2 separate regions of the Homo sapiens genome follow, and region 2 is reported to be linked to region 1. Evidence: microRNA targets listed by miRTarBase, many of them from high-throughput screens and not tested one by one. Region 1 holds a microRNA gene; the other region holds the end of a gene's coding sequence.
Evidence for each region. Region 1 holds the annotated microRNA hsa-miR-4279 (CUCUCCUCCCGGCUUC, at 5,839-5,854, opposite strand). A microRNA usually pairs through its seed, bases 2 to 8, with sites in the 3' UTR of a target mRNA and lowers its output. Matches are read on the target gene's strand: a 7mer-m8 pairs with bases 2 to 8, a 7mer-A1 pairs with bases 2 to 7 and ends in A, and an 8mer does both.

Region 2: miRTarBase lists KIAA1614 as a target of hsa-miR-4279. Seed matches in the 3' UTR shown: 7mer-A1 at 1,544-1,550, 7mer-m8 at 1,693-1,699 and 7mer-m8 at 5,203-5,209.

The regions. Positions count from the first base shown.
Region 1 is chr5:31,930,274-31,938,494 of GRCh38, forward strand. MIR4279 (microRNA 4279) reads right to left here and starts at 5,886; the gene lies at 5,829-5,886. All of the region lies in intron 2 of PDZD2 (PDZ domain containing 2), which reads left to right.
Region 2 is chr1:180,944,466-180,952,686 of GRCh38, forward strand. It overlaps KIAA1614, which reads left to right. Exons shown (of 9, transcript NM_020950.2): 8 at 1-51; 9 at 838-7,149. The coding sequence ends at 1,123. KIAA1614-AS1 (KIAA1614 antisense RNA 1) reads right to left here. Exons shown (of 2, transcript NR_145481.1): 2 at 5,225-6,453. Among named protein-coding and RNA genes, the nearest start is that of KIAA1614-AS1, 6.3 kb to the right of the region's middle. RefSeq lists an enhancer at 4,960-5,510.

The DNA of each region.
Region 1 (8,221 bases):
CCGCTTACTGCAAGCTCTGCCTCCCGGGTTCACGCCATTCTCCTGCCTCAGTCTCCCAAGTAGCTGGGACTACACCACGCCCGGCTAATTTTTTTGTATTTTTAGTAGAGTTTCATGGGGTTTCACCATGTTAGCCAGGATGGTCTCGATCTCCTGACCTCGTGATCCGCCCGCCTCGGCCTCCCAAAGTGCTGGGATTACAGGCGTGAGCCACCGCGTCCGGCCAGGTATTTCCCTATAGTGACACAAAAGCCTGAATAACACAGGAATAGATGAAGAATGGTCTCAAATACGCATCAAGGTGTTTAGGCGTTATCCTTTGGACAACGAGAAATTATTTGAGTGTTTCAAGCAGATGTTATGTATTTGCCACTGGATACCTCTGTGTGCAGGATATACTTTAGGGGTAGACAACTGAGGAGGTGAGAGTAGTCTAGAGTCAAGGCCCTAAGGTGTGACTCAGTACAGCAGAAGGGGACCTCAAACTTGGCATGCCCTAAAAAACCCACTATGCGACCAGACGCGGTGGCTCAGGCCTGTAATCCCAGTACTTTGGGAGGCCAAGGCTAGTGGATCACTTGAGGTCAGGAGTGAGAGAGACTGAAGAAGTGGAGTTGACAGGACCTACCAGCAAGGGTGGAGGGGAGAGAGGAGCCAAGGGCGACTCAGTTGTGCTTCAGTGACAGGGAACTCATTGGCATGAGTTGGAAGAGGAGATACAGGAGGGGGAACCTGTCTGAGGGAGAGCATAATGGGATTGTTTATTTGAGGCAGGGTCTCACTCTTTTGCCCAGGCTGGGGTATAGTGGCGCGATCTCAGCTCACTGCAACCTCTGCCTCCTGGGTTCAAGCAATTCTCCTGTCTCAGCCTCTTGAGTAGCTGGGATTACAGGCACGTACCACCACACCTGGCTAATTTTTGTATTTTTAGTAGAGATGGGGTTTCACCATGTTGGCCAGGCTGGTTTCGAACGCCTGACATCAAGTGATCCACCTGCCTCAGCCTCCTGAGTAGCTGGGATGACAGGCGTACACCACTATGCCTGGCTAATTTTTGTATTTTTAGTAGAGACGGGGTTTCACCATGTTGGCCAGACTGGTTTCGAACTCCTGACATCAAGTGATCCACCTGCCTTGACCTCCCAAAGTACTGGAATTACAGGCGTGAGGCGCTGTGCCTGGCCGCATAGTAGATTTTTTAGGGCAGGCTGAGTTTGAGGTGGCTGCAGGACACCCAGCTGCAGCTGGGCAGGAGTTGAGGGTCTGAGCTCAGAAGAGAGATGGAGATTGAGGAGCTGGTGGCTCTTACTTGGTTGCTGTAGCTATGGAAGTAGATGGGATAATCCAGGTGACAGGAGGGAGGAACGAAGAAGCTGGTACCCCTCCAAGGCCCACCCTGGCCTGGCAGGAGGAATGAGACTGAAAAGGGGGCCAGAGAGCTGGAGGCAGCTCTGTCCACTAGAGGCTTATGGCTCATGGGACAGATTTGACAGCTAAGAAACAGATCTGTATACAATGAAGGCCCCAGAGCATGATGGTGTCAGTGTATGCTGCCGGCGTTGTGTGAGTTGAGGGTGTGTGAACTCCAGGAGGGCTGGATGGGAGGGGAGGGGTGGGCCACAGCCGCACGGAGCTTTCTCAGGTGTGATTCTGAACCCTTTCCATTAATGGCAGAAGTTGGAAGGGAGCTGCCTCCCCAAATTTGCAGGCCAAGGTCCTCCCCGCTTGCACAATTGGCAGGGTGTTCCCCATCAGTGCTGACATTATCATCTCCCATCAAGGGGCAGGAAAACAAACCTTGTTTGCTTTCATAACTTTCTGTGTGTGATTTTTGACTGGGGGATGGGAAAAGGGGAGAAGGAAATGTTAGTGCTTCCTGTTGTTTTTAAGACCATTTATGAATTGCATTTTATGGTCTTTTCATTTTGTGACATCAAGCATATGAAGCATGATAGCCATAGAACTGGCCAATGAGAAAATGTAAAGAAAACCAAACCGGGTGCAGTGGCTCATGCCTGTAATCCTTGTACTTTAGGAGGCCGAGGCAGGCAGATCACCTGAGGTCAGGAGTTCGAGACCAGCCTGGCCAACATGGTGAAACTCCGTCTCTACTAAAAATACAAAAATTAGCTAGGCGTGGTGGCGTGTGCCTGTAATCCCAGGTACCCGGGAGGCTGAGGCAGGAGAATCGCTGGAACCCAGGAGGCGGAGGCTGCAGTGAGCCAAGATTGCACCACTGCACTCCAGCCTGGGCGACAGAGCAAGACTCTGCCTCAAAAAAAGAAAGAAAGAAAGAAAGAAAGAAAGAAAATCCAGGCTCCATTGACTTCACACACTTAATATAAAAGTTCTCATTTTAATAAATTTAAATGTATAGTTTTGTGGCATTAAGTACATTCACACTGTTGTGTAACCATCACCACTATCCATCTCCAGAAGGCTTTTCCTCTTGCAAAACTGAAACTCTGGATCCATTAAGCAGTAACTTCCCATTCCTCCTCTCCCCAGCCCCTGGCAACCACCATTCTACTTTCTGTCTCTGTGAATTTTACTATTCTGAGTGCCTCATACGATTAAAATCATATAGGGTTTGTCCTTTTATAACTGGCTTATTTCACTTAGCATAGTGTCCTTTTTTTTTTTTTCTTGTTTTTAAGACAGAGTTTCGCTCTTGTTGCCCAGGCTGGAGTGCTATGGTGCAATCTCGGCTCACTGCAACCTCTGCCTCCAGGGTTCAAGTGATTCTCATGCCTCATCCTCCCGAGTAGCTGGGATTACAGATGTGTGCCACCACGCCTGGCCAATTTTTGTATTTTTAGTAGAGACGGGGTTTCACCATGTTGGCCAGGCTGGTCTCGAACTCCTGACCTCAAGTGATCCACCCACCTCGGTCTCCCAAAGTGCTAGGATTACAGGCCATGAGCCACTGCGCCCGGCCAGCATAGTTTCTTTTCAAAACTCATCCAAGTAGTAGCATGTGTCAGAATTTCCTTCCTTTTTACGGCTGAATAGTATTCCATTGTACATATGTATCACATTTTCTGTATCCATTCATCCATCAGTGGATGCTTAGATGGCTTCCACCTTTTGGTTATTGAGTGGACAGTGCTGCTACAAATATCGAGGGTGTGAATATCCATTCGTGTGTCTGCTTTCGGTTCTTGGGTTTATACCTGGGGTGTCCCTTGGCTTTTGCTGTATGATCGACTCCTGCTGGGGATTTCTGGGATTGCCCTCTTTGTTACCTTTCTGTTTTAGCTTCTGGGAGAATCTTAGGTGTGTCCCTAGGCTGGGCTTTGTGACCCGCTGGACAGCCATTACTGAGCCCCTGCCTACAAAGATCCACACCTTGTCCCCTTGGCACCATCTTAGAGTTTGAATCAGGAAGATTTACGTTGTAACCTCAGTACTTCCACTAATGTGCCCTGTGATGTTGGAAAGCTTCCTCATGTTCCTGTGGGCCTCTGTTTCCACACGAACGCAATGAGAAAGTAGAACTCAGTGATCTTCAGGGTCCCTCCCGGGTGATGGACAGTGAGTGCACAGTGGTCTCCTAAGCCCAGTGACCAAGGAACCAAGGTGGACACGAAGAAGGCAGAGCCCCAGATGCCTGTCATGGATAATGCAATTCAGAAACTTGGGTCGGTTAGGTGGCTTGTGTACTTGCTGAATTCTGGTGTATGCTACGTGGCTCGTTTTGTGAGTAAATGTAGCAGTAATTCCCCTTAAAGCAAAACTATATGTTATATATTATCCACCCTTCGTTGAGAGAATGGGACAAAGAGAGGCAGGATAACTGGTTTTACCATAGATTTTTGGCAGATGTCACCAACTAATACTGTCAGGAATATTTTATAGGCAAATTTTACCTCTTGTTAGGACTGCAGTTTGGTCACAGGCCAAGGCAATTTTAATCTTTTTCCCTCACTTCTTTTAAAAGAAAAAAAAGCTAAAGAGCAGACTTCCTTCTCCTTAGCTTGAACTGTGAGCAGGAGTCCACGCTTTCCTGAACTAGGAAGGTGAGTTCCAGGAAGTTACCCACACGATCAACTTTCAGGCCTCTTGAATGCACACAAAAAATGTGGACTTGCCTGGGGCTCCCTGCTGGTGTTTGGAGACTAGGAACTAATCCTCCCATTAGTTCTTTCTCTGCCGCACCAGGGAAACATCATATATACTAGTGACTTTCTGTCTTCTTTATCTCATCAGTAAAAGGCGGATCCTGTTTTTGTTTTCAAGAATGTGTTAGGGTATTGGGATGGCTAGAATCCATTTGGAGCACATGAGAAAATGTATAGCATTTTCTGTTTAGGAGACATTTGAACCATCTAATTAAAAAAAAAAAAAAAAAAAGACTTAAGTCCGGATACTAGACCACCAGTTTTTTAATACATGGAAAATTTAGAAGCAATTTCAAAAATGTCTCACTGTGACTGGAACTAGGTTATGTCAATACAAGGCTCCTAGGGGAAAAATTTATACTGGATAAAACTCTAAAATAAATGAATATACTAAAAAACACCAAAAATCTGGCCAGCAGTGGTGGCTCACACCTGTAATCCCAGAACTTTGGGAGGCCGAGATGGGCAGATCACTTGAGACCAGGAGTTTGAGACCAGCTTGACCAACATGGTGAAACCCCATCTCTACTAAAAATACAAAAAATATCTGGGCATGGTGGCGGGCGCCTGTAATCCCAGCTACTCCAGGAGGTTGAGGCAGGAGAATCTCTTGAACCCGGAAGATGGAGGTTGCAGTGGGCCGAGATTACTCCACTGCACTCCCACCTGGGCAACAGAGCCAGACCCTGTCTCAAAAAAAAAAAAAGAAAGAAAATAGAATGGCTGCAAGAAGTAAACAGAGGATGTTTGCTCCTATTTTGTTCCTTACAAGTATAGCTAACAAAGGACCTTGTGAGTATTGGAATAATAAAATGTCATTCCCATTTAAGTTGCACATGTACATTTTTATACCTGCACCAAAGGTTTTTGGAATCTTTGTCTCTGGCTGTTGGATCATGAAAGACCCCTTTGGCTTCAGCTGTAAAACAAGGCAAATTTTACCCATAATAGAAACTACTATATATGTGTGTTGGTTTAGGGAAGCCTATTTTTTAACATTCTATTTCCTGATAAAACCTTAGAAAAATCATATTGTGTTTAAAAGTTGAGGATTTTTTCAGCAACTCAAGGGCTGACTGATAATTTCTGGTTTTGCTAGTACTTGTCTACAATGGAAGTTGGAAGCTTAGTCGGAGTAGAAAAGTTGTAAATTTGGTGTCATCAAGACAAATGGCTTTTATTTCCCAACAGACTTCTTTATAAAATAATTTAACCCCTTGATTTTTGTTTGCATTTGGATGCAATTTAAAAAAAAATCTGGCCCTTTAATAAGTGCAAGACAGATTAAATGTATTGTGAAATATCAGGTCACTGAGTGGAAAGTTTCTTCACTGATCATCCTAGCTTCACATTTTTAGTTATGTGAAGTACACATTTTGATAGTATTTTGGTTTTCTCCTGCCTGAAATCTTCAGTCCTCCTCCCTGGCAGTCTGTAGAATGAAGCAGCTGTGGTCCGTGGCCAAGTGTGCGTCCTTTGGTGATGGAAGAGCTGATCTGCAGATACCTGCAGGAGGAAGCCATGCATGATGTCTGCTGGGATATGATTTCCCCCCATACTCCTGGAAAATTAGAACCGTTTATAGCAGCCTGGTTCCAATACACTGGCAGGGCAAGGATTGGCTCCTTCTCTTACAAACACAGCGTGGCTGGATGCATTCATAAATGAAAAATGATCTGAGTGCTGTGGGTGGGTGGGGCTCTGGAGCTCAGGAGGTGAAGCCGGGAGGAGAGAGAGAGAATCTGCTCCTCAGCTCCACAGAGCATGGGGAGCTGGCAGGAAGTTGGAGCACGCATGGCGCAGCTTGTATTTTTGTTGATAGTTAATAACCCAGGACTTTAAAGACCTGAATGGAGAAGGGAAGTGAAGCACAACCAACTTTGGAGTCTGTCCCATTCCAGAGGCTGCTGAAGCACAGCAGAGCACGCTCACCTGACCAGCTCATAAAGCAGGTAGGACGGGAGACCTGAGTGGTGAAGAGAATCACATTTTCTCTCTGAACACAACTTACAGGTCTTCCAAGGGTTTATTATTTTTTAATTATATGAGAGATGAGCAGGTAATAATAACATAAAAGACTCAGCTTGAATTGTGCTGATATCTGCCCAAGCAAGAGTTCTCTCAGTTACTAGTGTGATGACCAAATGACAGTTTTATTCTGAGAGTTGCTTTAAAAAAAAAAAAAGAAAAAAAGCATGCAGCATTGAAGCTTTTTTAATTTAAACTCATTTAAAAATTGGCAGATGATAAATGAACTGCAGACACTGTGTTTTAGAACAAATACTTTGAAGGGAGTCAACCAGAAACCGATTTTCAGGCTTGACTGTGGCTCCATTTTCATATTTCAGAGCCAACGAGGTGCTCACTAATTTTTGCTGGCTTTTGTAAGAAAGGAGGTGGATGTATAACAGCTGTGAAATATCCAGAAATTGACTGGGATCCAGAGTGAAGCCCGAATGCACTAATGTTTTCTCCATTAAGGCAGGCTGCCTCTGCTCGGCTTCTAAGTCAAGGGATTGGAAAGCAGTGTGAAAGTGAAGTGTGAATCCTGAATATTTGTCATGGAGTGGGGGGAGTGCAGAGGGTTGGAAACTGTCACAGTGACGTTTCACACTCAGAAGTAGAAAATAAATGGGGAGGACCATGGGTGGCAGCCACATGCAAGGATAATTTTAAAACTGATTTTTGATTCCCATGATTGTAGCCGAGTCTCAGGGTGTTCCTTCCGTTGTCAAGGTTTGGGGCTTGTGATAAGAGAAGTAGAACAGAATAAAGATCATCTCCAGCCCCAGGTTCTGAATCATTTCTAGGCCTTGCTTCTCCTGGGCACTGGGATGATCTGACATGTTTTCCCTCACTAATGAAGTGGCCAGGGTGTTGGGGGATTGGGCTAACATGGAGGAGGTTGGATAGAAATGGTGCGTGTGGTCAGCCTGAGAAGAACGTCAGAGGTAGGTGGAGAATTTTGTTTCGGTAGAATAGCCCAGCCTGAATCCTGGAACTGTTTGCGTTGAGGTTTGGAGAATGCCCCGTAGCCACAGGGGTGTGTCTGAAAAGGCAAAATTGGGAGCTGCTTGGGTTACTGCTTACTGCCTGGCTGGCATCCTCATGCTGTGGTCATCCTCATGCCGTGGTGGCCACGTTTTGTGGCTTTGCATTTTAGTCCTGGAGGGCTGGGGGATGGCTGTGTTTAGTCAAGCAAGCCCACACATCATTGCTAGTCTCTCTTTCCGTGTGATTTCTCAGCATTACACAGCTAGCCTTCTATGGGAGGAGGAACGGCACCTCCTGTGGTCTTTTAGAAAACTTTTTCACCCCATGTTCCTACCGTCGCCACCCCAACTCTTGTCCTTTCTTGCCTACTGTTCACCTGTTGTGTGTGTCCCCTTTGTCTCCCATCCTTCAGACTGATCTGTCCCAGGTGCTATCTGCAGTGACTTAGAAGCTGTGTTGGGGACAGGTTCCTTCCCAGGGTTCCTGCTGGAAGCGGTGTTCAGCAAGCTATGGCCCTTAGGCAAATCCAGACTGCCCTAGCCTGTTTTTGTATGGCCTGGGAGCTAAGAATGTGTTTTATGTTTTGAAGAGTTGAAGAAACAAAGAAGAATATAGGACAGAGATAGTGACCCACAAAGCCTATCCGATCTTTAGAAAAAAACATTTGCTGGTTTGCTGGTTGGTCTGTTGATTTCCGCCCCCATTTAGAGACAGAGTTTCACTCTGTTGGCCAGATTGGTGTCAAACTTTTGACCTCAAGTGATCTGCCCACCTCGGCCTCCCAAAGTGCTAGGATTACAGGTGTGAGCCACTGCTCCCAGCACTCCACCTTGACCTGTTGATTTTTTAATATCATTGGTGAATAATGTGATCAGTGGGTTGATGCAGCAAGTTAAGCCCTCAGCAATTTGAATGGGCTCTTGTTTGGGAAACTGATTTTAGTTTCTTAGTCTGTATTGGTGCCATCGCCTCCAAATGGGTAGATTCAGGAGTTAGGAAGTTGAAGCTTTTCTGCAGGGTCCCAACAATAGTAAAGAAATATTAGATGAACTATGTGCCTGTGGTTGGATTTTCACCCTCTTTCCTGGTTTATGAACCTGCTGGAA
Region 2 (8,221 bases), not on the chromosome of region 1:
GTCCAGCCTCTACCTGGTAGCAGGGCCAGGGGACCACAGTGCAGCTGGCAGGTATGAGGGGCACACATGGTTTGGAGGATAAACTCAGAGAGTGACCAGCGGAGCCAAAAGCTTAACTCCTTCCTGCCTCAGCATCATGGCTCTGAGCAGGGTCCTTTGAAGGGAAAGCAACAGGACATGTGATGTGTGGAGACGAGGCTGCCACGGGAGTCTCAGCACCTCAGTGCCCTGCATGGACCCTCGGTGCATTGGGCTCTGAGAAGGCCTGGGGTCGCTGGAGGGGGTAGAGTTGGCCGGTTTGATTCCACTGTCCCTCTGCTGTGCAATGACATCTTGAAATCAGAAAGTTTAGAGAGTTTTCTTAGCCCAGCTAAAGATCTGAATAAACACATAGAGACAGAGGCCCCCAAAGAGGCCCGTGACCCATGACCTGCTTGGAAAATCCCACCCTGTCCGATGAGGCCCTGTAGGCTGGCTGCTCTTTCCTGGGGCGTGGATGTACTTCAGGGTGTATGTTAGCTCCTGGAAATGTGACATAAAGTTATACCTTTTGTCAGATTCTTACAAAGGTCTCTGTACCCCCCAAAATTTGAAACCACTGCTTTGGGAGGGTGGGGTTTCTAGTTCCACAGCAGGCCTTGGGGGGCCTTGCACAGCGGCGGAAACCCACCAGTTTTGGCCCTAGCAGGCTCTTTTTGCTGGCTGAAGTCAGCAGAACCCCAGCCTCCAATGCCAGGCTCTTAAGTCTGTGAGGCATCGGTCATCTGTAAGCCAGGGAAGAGCTGTGCCCAGTGCCTGATGCTTTTTGCCCTCACTGTGTCTCTGGTTCCCTCGCAGGCCGGCCAAGACTTCACCACGGCGTGCCCTCAGTGTGGAGGACGTGGGTGCTCCCAGCCTGGCTCGCACCGTGGGCCGCCTGGTGGAGGTGTTCCCAGACGGCACCAGCCAGCTGCAGCTGCAGCGCTCCCCAGGGGGCACTTTCGGCTTCTGCGTGGCCTCTGGGAATGGGCGCCCAGACTCAGGTATGCCCTCTCCTCTTCCTCAGCCCCATGGCTGGGGCGGCCTTAGCAAACAAGGCAGGGCCTTCTGGCTGTGGTCAGAGGCTTTTCTGGTCTTTGGCTGAGCCGTGCAGCTCTGGGAATTCAGAAAGCCTCTGACTACAGGACTAGGCTTCTCCCCTCAGGGGCTCTTTCTGAATTGTCCAGGGCTCTCTAGGAGTCTGCACCTGCAGAGCCTTTGCCCTAGGCAACTGCAGCTGAGAGTGCGTTGGTGGGGAGTGTGCGGGAGGGGGTAGAGTTGGCAGGTTTGACTCCACTGTCCCCCTGCTGTCTGATGACATCTTGAAATTAGAAGCTTAGGCCGGGCGCAGTGGCTCATGCCTGTAATCCCAGAACTTTGGGAGGCCGAGGCGCCTGGATCACCTGAGGTCAGGAGTTCGAGACCAGTCTGGCCCACATGGTGAAACCCATGTCTACTAAAAATACAAAATTAGCTGGGCGTGGTGGCGCATGCCTATAATCCCAGCTACTTGGGAGGCTGAGGCAGGAGAATTGCTTGAACCCGGGAGGTAGAGGTTGCAGTGAGCCGAGATTGCGCCATTGCACTCCAGCCTGGGCAACAAGAGCAAAACTTCATCTCAAAGGAAAAAAAAAAAGAAATAAATAAATTAGAATTTTGAAGGCCATCTTTGCAGAGGAGAGCCAGAGGGAAACTGTCTGTGCCTGCTGGTTCTCAGCAGTCCCTTTGATGTGGCTGCGTTGAAACGGTTCCTTTCCTCCGGCTGTGGAGTATGTCTGGGCACGTGGAGCATGCCTGTCTGTCTCTGCATCCCGTCCCTCCCTCAGGCCTGTGCCCGATGATTATGTTCAGATGAATCCTGGCTGCAGGCCTCTGACTGGGGTGTGCTCTGGGTCTCAATTCAACCCAGGCAATGGCAGGGAGAAGTCCTGGACATCATTCTGCACTCTGACCAGTTCTCAGTTCCACCCCATCCATGAGTCTTTCAGGGCAACGTGACTTGCAAAAGCCCACGCCCAAGGTCTGTGGTCCAGAATGCATCTCAAGGGCCCATAAAAGACATTCCCCAGAGGATCAGGGAAGGAAGACACGTATGTGAGGGTGGGGAAGGAGGGGAGGGGAAGGAAGGAGAGAGAAAGGGAGAGACAGATACAGAAAGACGAACACAGAAGCCTGCTGCGGCCGGGCTCTGCCGATGGGGGGTTGAGTCCTGTGCTTTGATCTCCTAGCTCAATGCTGTTTAGCCTGGAAAAAAGTCTGCCTGCTACCACATTTGCAGACCACAGCATGAGTTCTCATGTCTGTTCCATCATTGTTTCAGCAAATATATACTAAGCACCTACTATGTGTTATAGATACGGGGGATACAGCAGTAAATGGAACAGACCAAATCCCTATCCTCATGAATATACTACCCAGTGAGCAGTTAGATTGTATCTATAAAATGTGTACTCTTGTTATGTATAATGTGCTACGTATGTCAGATGGTGAAAAGAAAGTTCTGAGAAACAGACAGATAAAGCAGGTGTGGCAGGTGCTGGTATAGACAGGAGTGTGGGGAGGCTTTTCTGAGAAGATGACACTTGAGCAGGGCCGTGGATGGGGCGAGGAAGGGGCCCCATGGGTGTCTGGGGAAGAGCATTCCGGCAGACTGAACAGCAAGTGCGGAGCCCTGGTGGAGGGGCGAGCCTGGCCTGTGAGAACTGTGAGGGTCAGGCTGGACACTGCAGAGCAGGCAACGGGTTGGGAGGAGCAGAGTTTGGAAAGATGGGGTTGTGCCACTGTAAGGGGCTTTGGCTTTCATGCCGAATGAGATGGGAGCCACTAGAGGGCTCGGAGCGAGCACTGAGACTCTCTAATGTCTATGAGAATAGACCCCAGTGGGACACGGGTGGAGCCAGGGAGCCCTGTGTTGAAGCTATTTCAGCAGTCCAGGACAGAGACAGTGGTGCCTGGACTGGGAACGGCTGTGGAGATGGGGAGAGGGGAGAGGGGACAGGGGTTGGATTCTGGTTGATTTGACTATTTGCTGATGAGCTGGACATGTAAGAGGAAGAGAGGACAGGTCTCTGCCTACTCTGGACCTCAGGAGGATAAAAAGTCCTTCCTCACAGGCCTTCCCGTAGCCTCCTCTCCCGTTAGGGGAGCAGGACAGGCCCCCCGGACAGGTGGTGTGAAGGCAGAGGCAGACAACGCAGCATGTTTGTGCTCCGGCACCTCTGCTGGCTATGTGATCTAGAGCAGGCGACATCCCCACTGAGCCTCACTCAGTTCCCTAATCTGTGAAATGAGGATGACAAAACCTACCTAGAAGAGTCATAAGGAGCATTTGGTAAGGCACACAGGAAAGGGCCTAGCATTTTTCTTCCCTCCCCTTCAGAAAGAGAAAGTCTGGGGAAGAGAACCCCAGACAGGGACCAGCGTGATCCGCATTCACCTGTCGATGTGAGTGCACACACAACAGGTCATTGTACTCTGCCGCCCACCCTCCCCCAGAGTCCCTTTTTGCTCCCTTGTAGGCAGTGGGAGCCCCTCCCTGTCACCCGTCAGGGAGCTCTGATGGGCAGGGGTCTCTAGTGACCCAGGGCCCCCGGCACCCTCGCCTGAGTTGGTGCCAGCTCCCCGTTGTGCCCAGGCACTCCCTGGTCCTGCTGCCATCATGGGCGCTGGATGGCACACAGGGGTCCCCACGCACATGAAGCCTGGCGAGTGCTGGGGCCTCCGTGTCCCAGGCCATCCTCCAACAGCAGAGGGTCGCTTCTTCCAGGCTCCAAGGGGCTGTGAGGAGGGCTGGCTTGCGCCCCGCACTGAACCGGCAGGATGCTGGTATTAACTTGCTGGCTTTCACATCCGACTCTATATGAGCCTGTGAGAACAGCAGGCTTTGCCTTCTGCTTCTAATTGGATACAACATAGAGATCACACATCCTCAACAAAGGCCATTTCCAGCAGACAATAAATGCCTATGACAGCAGGCTGTCATATTTGTGTCACGAATTTCAGTTGCGAAACCTACCCGAGTCTCCCCAAAATGGCAGGCGTGACGTCAGTGTCTGGCCTAGCTCTGGCAGCATTCTTTCAGGGTTTATCATTAGTCCCCACCTGCAACTCCCACAGCACATCAGACACTTCTCTGGGTTTGCCCCAGGGGCCCCTTCTTACCTGCCCCCTCCCCGTGCCACCAACCCGTAGACAGGGAGGGCAAGCAGTGAAAGGTCCATCTAGAGGAGGTAAAAGACAGGGCTGAGGGAAAACGCCTTGTACAGTCAGGATGGCAGATGTACTCTGTCAGGGAAGACAGCCCCACAGAAAAGGCTCGGCTTGGCCAAGAAGCAACAAAAGGGATTCTACACCTCAGACCAGGGAGGGGGAATGTGTACAAAGATTGGATTTACTAAATTCAGAGCCACAGACTTTCAGGTACTTCGGTGAAGATCAGTGCTCTTTCAAACCCACACTTCAGAGGCAGGCTTTAAAACGCCTGACTTCTGTCAGGGCCACAGGCTGGGCTGCCCAAAGCTCCTACGGGGCTGGGGGATCCGAGAGAGGACTTCCCACTAGTCCAAGATGTGGTGACTAGTTTCAAGCCAGAGATTGAGGAGCAGACCTGATGCCCTTTCGGGCCCCTGCTAAGAACCTGATTCGAGGAAAAGGAAGTGAAGACAGTAACGCGTGGGCAGTGGCCTCATGTCTGAAATGCAGAGTGAGCCGAGCTGGGCTGCGAACAGCGAGGGTGCCAAAGGCTGCGCTGAGCAGCCTGAATTCCGCCAGTGCTGATGCCCACACCAGGGGTGTGCCCCGCAGTCCCTCCAGCAAACTCAGCTTGTGTCTCAGCCCCTGTGTCCACCCAGCATGAAGCATGGGCATCAGGGGGTCCAGCCTGCCCTGGGAGAGCCAGCACCTCACTTACTCTCCCAGGTGGGAGCAGCTGGAGGGGAATTTGAAAGGTTTCCAGCCGCGGTTGAGGCCGGCGGGCGGGGGTTGGGGGCAGGGGGCCTCCTCAGCTGGACACTTCCCAGCCCAGCCAGCCCAAGCCCCACAGGGCCTGCCCCACTGACGGGGGGCTCCCTGAGAGCCGGAGCCTGGCAAAGAAGCAGAGAAGCTAGTTCCCGCAGGCTGGCTCTTGGCACCTTCTAGACCCAGGCAGGGCCTCTTTGGGGTGGGGAGGAGGGGGCATGTGCAGAAGAGGAGAGGGAGCCACCGCAGCTTTGAAATATGTGGCTAGAATTTTTATTTTTCCTGGGGTTTTTTGCTCAGATGCTTCCCCATCCCAATTGAGGAGCCATATCTGAGTAAGACTGAGGCCAGTGTCAGTCTTTGGCAATAGAGTGCAGCAAACCAGGCTTGGATGTGGCTCAGCCACTTTTGCTCTTCCGATGATACCTTCCCACCACCCCGGCCTTTACGCTGGGCCTGGGTGACCTGAGGCAGCAACTGGATCATAGTGCCAGGCACTGAGTAGGTATGGTTCCTAATTTTTAAAAACTATTTTCCTCCCAATTCTACAAGAAAAGCTCATCTCAGAAAAAGATTAGCTCACTCACTGTCAGGTATAAATAAATGACAACAGTTTAACGCGTTATTTGCACTAGGAGCATTTCCACTTTAAAAGCAGAGACAGTGGAATGGAGTTAGACCATGGAGGAGGCGCACTGTATCTATGTCTAAAGCCAGTTGTGGTTGTGAGATGGAATAATGAGGGGTGTGTGTATGTGTGCATGCGCACAGAGAAGTGCCTGGTATGAGCACCTCCTCCCTGTGCCACACAAACAGCACCTCATCAACATGGTCAGCATTCCAGAGATGCACTTCTTCGATTTGGGTGTCATTGTGAAATTCTCCTGTTTTCCTCTGCAGGGATCTACGTGCAGGAGATGGCTGACATGAGCATGGCCAAGCTGTACTCAGGGCTGCTGGGGGTGGGCGATGAGATCCTCGAGGTGAACGGGGCCAAGGTGGCAGGGCTGGGCTTGGCTCACATTAAGGAGCTCCTGGCCCACTCAGAGAGCTTGTCAATCCGTGTCCTGAGGCAGAGACCTGTCCCACGGTGACCCAGAAGTGCCGCTGCCCTCACTGTCACGGCCTCGGAAGCCCTGAAGCACTCAGGGTGGTTGGCAGGAACGTGCTGCACAGAGCTGCTCTGTGGCGGAAACAGATCCTGGCAGCATCTAACCCCTTGGGCTGTGGCAGGGCTTCTGTGGTGGGCTGCCTTTGGGAGACGCAAGGAGCCTGTTTGCATATTTTGTTTAAGGCCATTTATCCAGAACTAGAAAAAGAAAAAAATGGGTCTCCTTCCATGTCTGAGGGGGTGTCAACATCTACTTGTACCTTTGTTGGCAGGGGGAGAAGGGAGATTCAGTGGATCCTTTGGTTGATGCCTGAGAGCCGGCCTCACCTCCTGGTCCCATGCCTGGTCAAAGGCTACAGCCTCCAACACTGTGGAACCAAAGAAAGCACATGTCCATATTGGCCTTGACCCTTCCCTATTTCAGCCACGTTCCTCCCTACTCCATTCACTGCCCTTGCCCTTTATCCAGAAATGGGCAAAGTGTCCCGGAATACCAGCCTTACAGCCATTGACCATATATGCCAAACCAAAATCAGAACGTGTGGTCTGGCAGGAGTTTTATGCCCCTTCGGGGTGTGGGAATTCTGGGAGATGTTATCTGGTAGCCAGAATATTAAAAATTTCTAGGAAAATTTTTTTATACATAAAGTTGAAAACAACAACAACAACAACAAAGACCAATTTCAGGACGTGCTACTGTGGTAGCCAGGATCCAGCTAGTGGGACCGGCCAGACCAGCCCCATGCCACCCCGGCCGCTGCCTCTGCCCAGGTGGAGGCAAGAGTTGCTGCAACCTGACCTGTGGCAGCCTCCATCTTAGTTCTGTCCAGCTTGGAGACAGGGCTGCGGCAGGTGCCTGGCCATCACAGCTGCATGCTTTCTGCCCAGACCTCCTGGCGGTGCTGTCGGTGGGCAGGTGGGTGGGTGGGCAGCAGGGAAGCTGCAGAGCGCGGCTGGGCCATCTGCCTGGGCCTCAGTGCTGCCTGGAGGGCTGGGACTCTTTGGGAGTGGATGGCCATGTGTCAGTCTTAACTTACTAAAAAGCAAAGCTAAAGCTTCTCTCACTCTGAGTTGCTAAATTCTCGGCTGGACACTCACTTGACCCTCACTAGCCATGGGCAGGACCAGGGAGTGGGGTGCTGGTGGTGGGCATGCCAGAGGAAAGGCTGGGGAGGCCACGGGTTAGGGTGACAGCCAGGGTAGATGCAGAAGCCTCCAGACCGTCCTTTGGCAAAAGAAAAGCCCTGGACAAGGTTTATGACCAGGAGAGAAGAAGCCAAGGGACTCTAGCTGGGCACAACTGAGGAGTGGAATAGGAAGTTCAGGGCTGTTTTAGAACTGGCCAGGGTGCCAGCTGTGGTTAAAAAAAAAAAAAAATCCTGGAACCAAGAAACCCAACCCTCAGCAGAATCGGGTTTAAAAGAGTGTCAGGGCAGCTTTCATTGGGCAAGAACACTGAAGCAGGCCTGTGGCCCAGGGACAAGGTCGTGGGGGTGGGGAGGCAGTCCTGTGCAGTGTTGGGAGTGTGTTCCCCCACCCAGGGCCTTTGCAGCAGGAGCCAGGTAGAACCCTGTCTTCATGATGCCCATGGGAGGAGAGGGAGGGGCTGAGCCCCATGGCTCACAGAATGGGGTAGGGGGGTGGAGGAGGAATTAGGGGGATCTGGCAGGTGAGCAGAGGGGCCAGAGGAACAAGTGCTTGGGGCTTCAGGCTGTGAAGAGGGCACTGGCACTCTTCAAAGTGTAGAAATGAGCCCACAGCAAGAAACTTCAAGTGTGGAGAAACCCTGGCTCCTCCTATACTGCAATTCTTGGCCTAAGGTCACAAAACTGGAGAAATTTCATGTTGAGAAAAGCTCCTGGGGGCCAAAGACAGCTCCACTTTTCTCTGAAAAGGACAACTTGCCTTCCCAGGTGGGAGGAGGTGGAAGGGGGTGGCTGGGGCTGGGAGGACGGGAAAAGGCCTCAGGCGTATCACCTCCCGGGCTGGTGACATACTTAGTCCTTAAATAGTCCTGCCAGGTATGTCCTGCTCATTGTCTTCATTTTGCATAGATGGGGAACCAAGTTCAGCAGCAGTGACAGGGCATGCAATCCTGCCCCTCTGACTTGGGGCCCACTTTTCCCACTGCAGCTG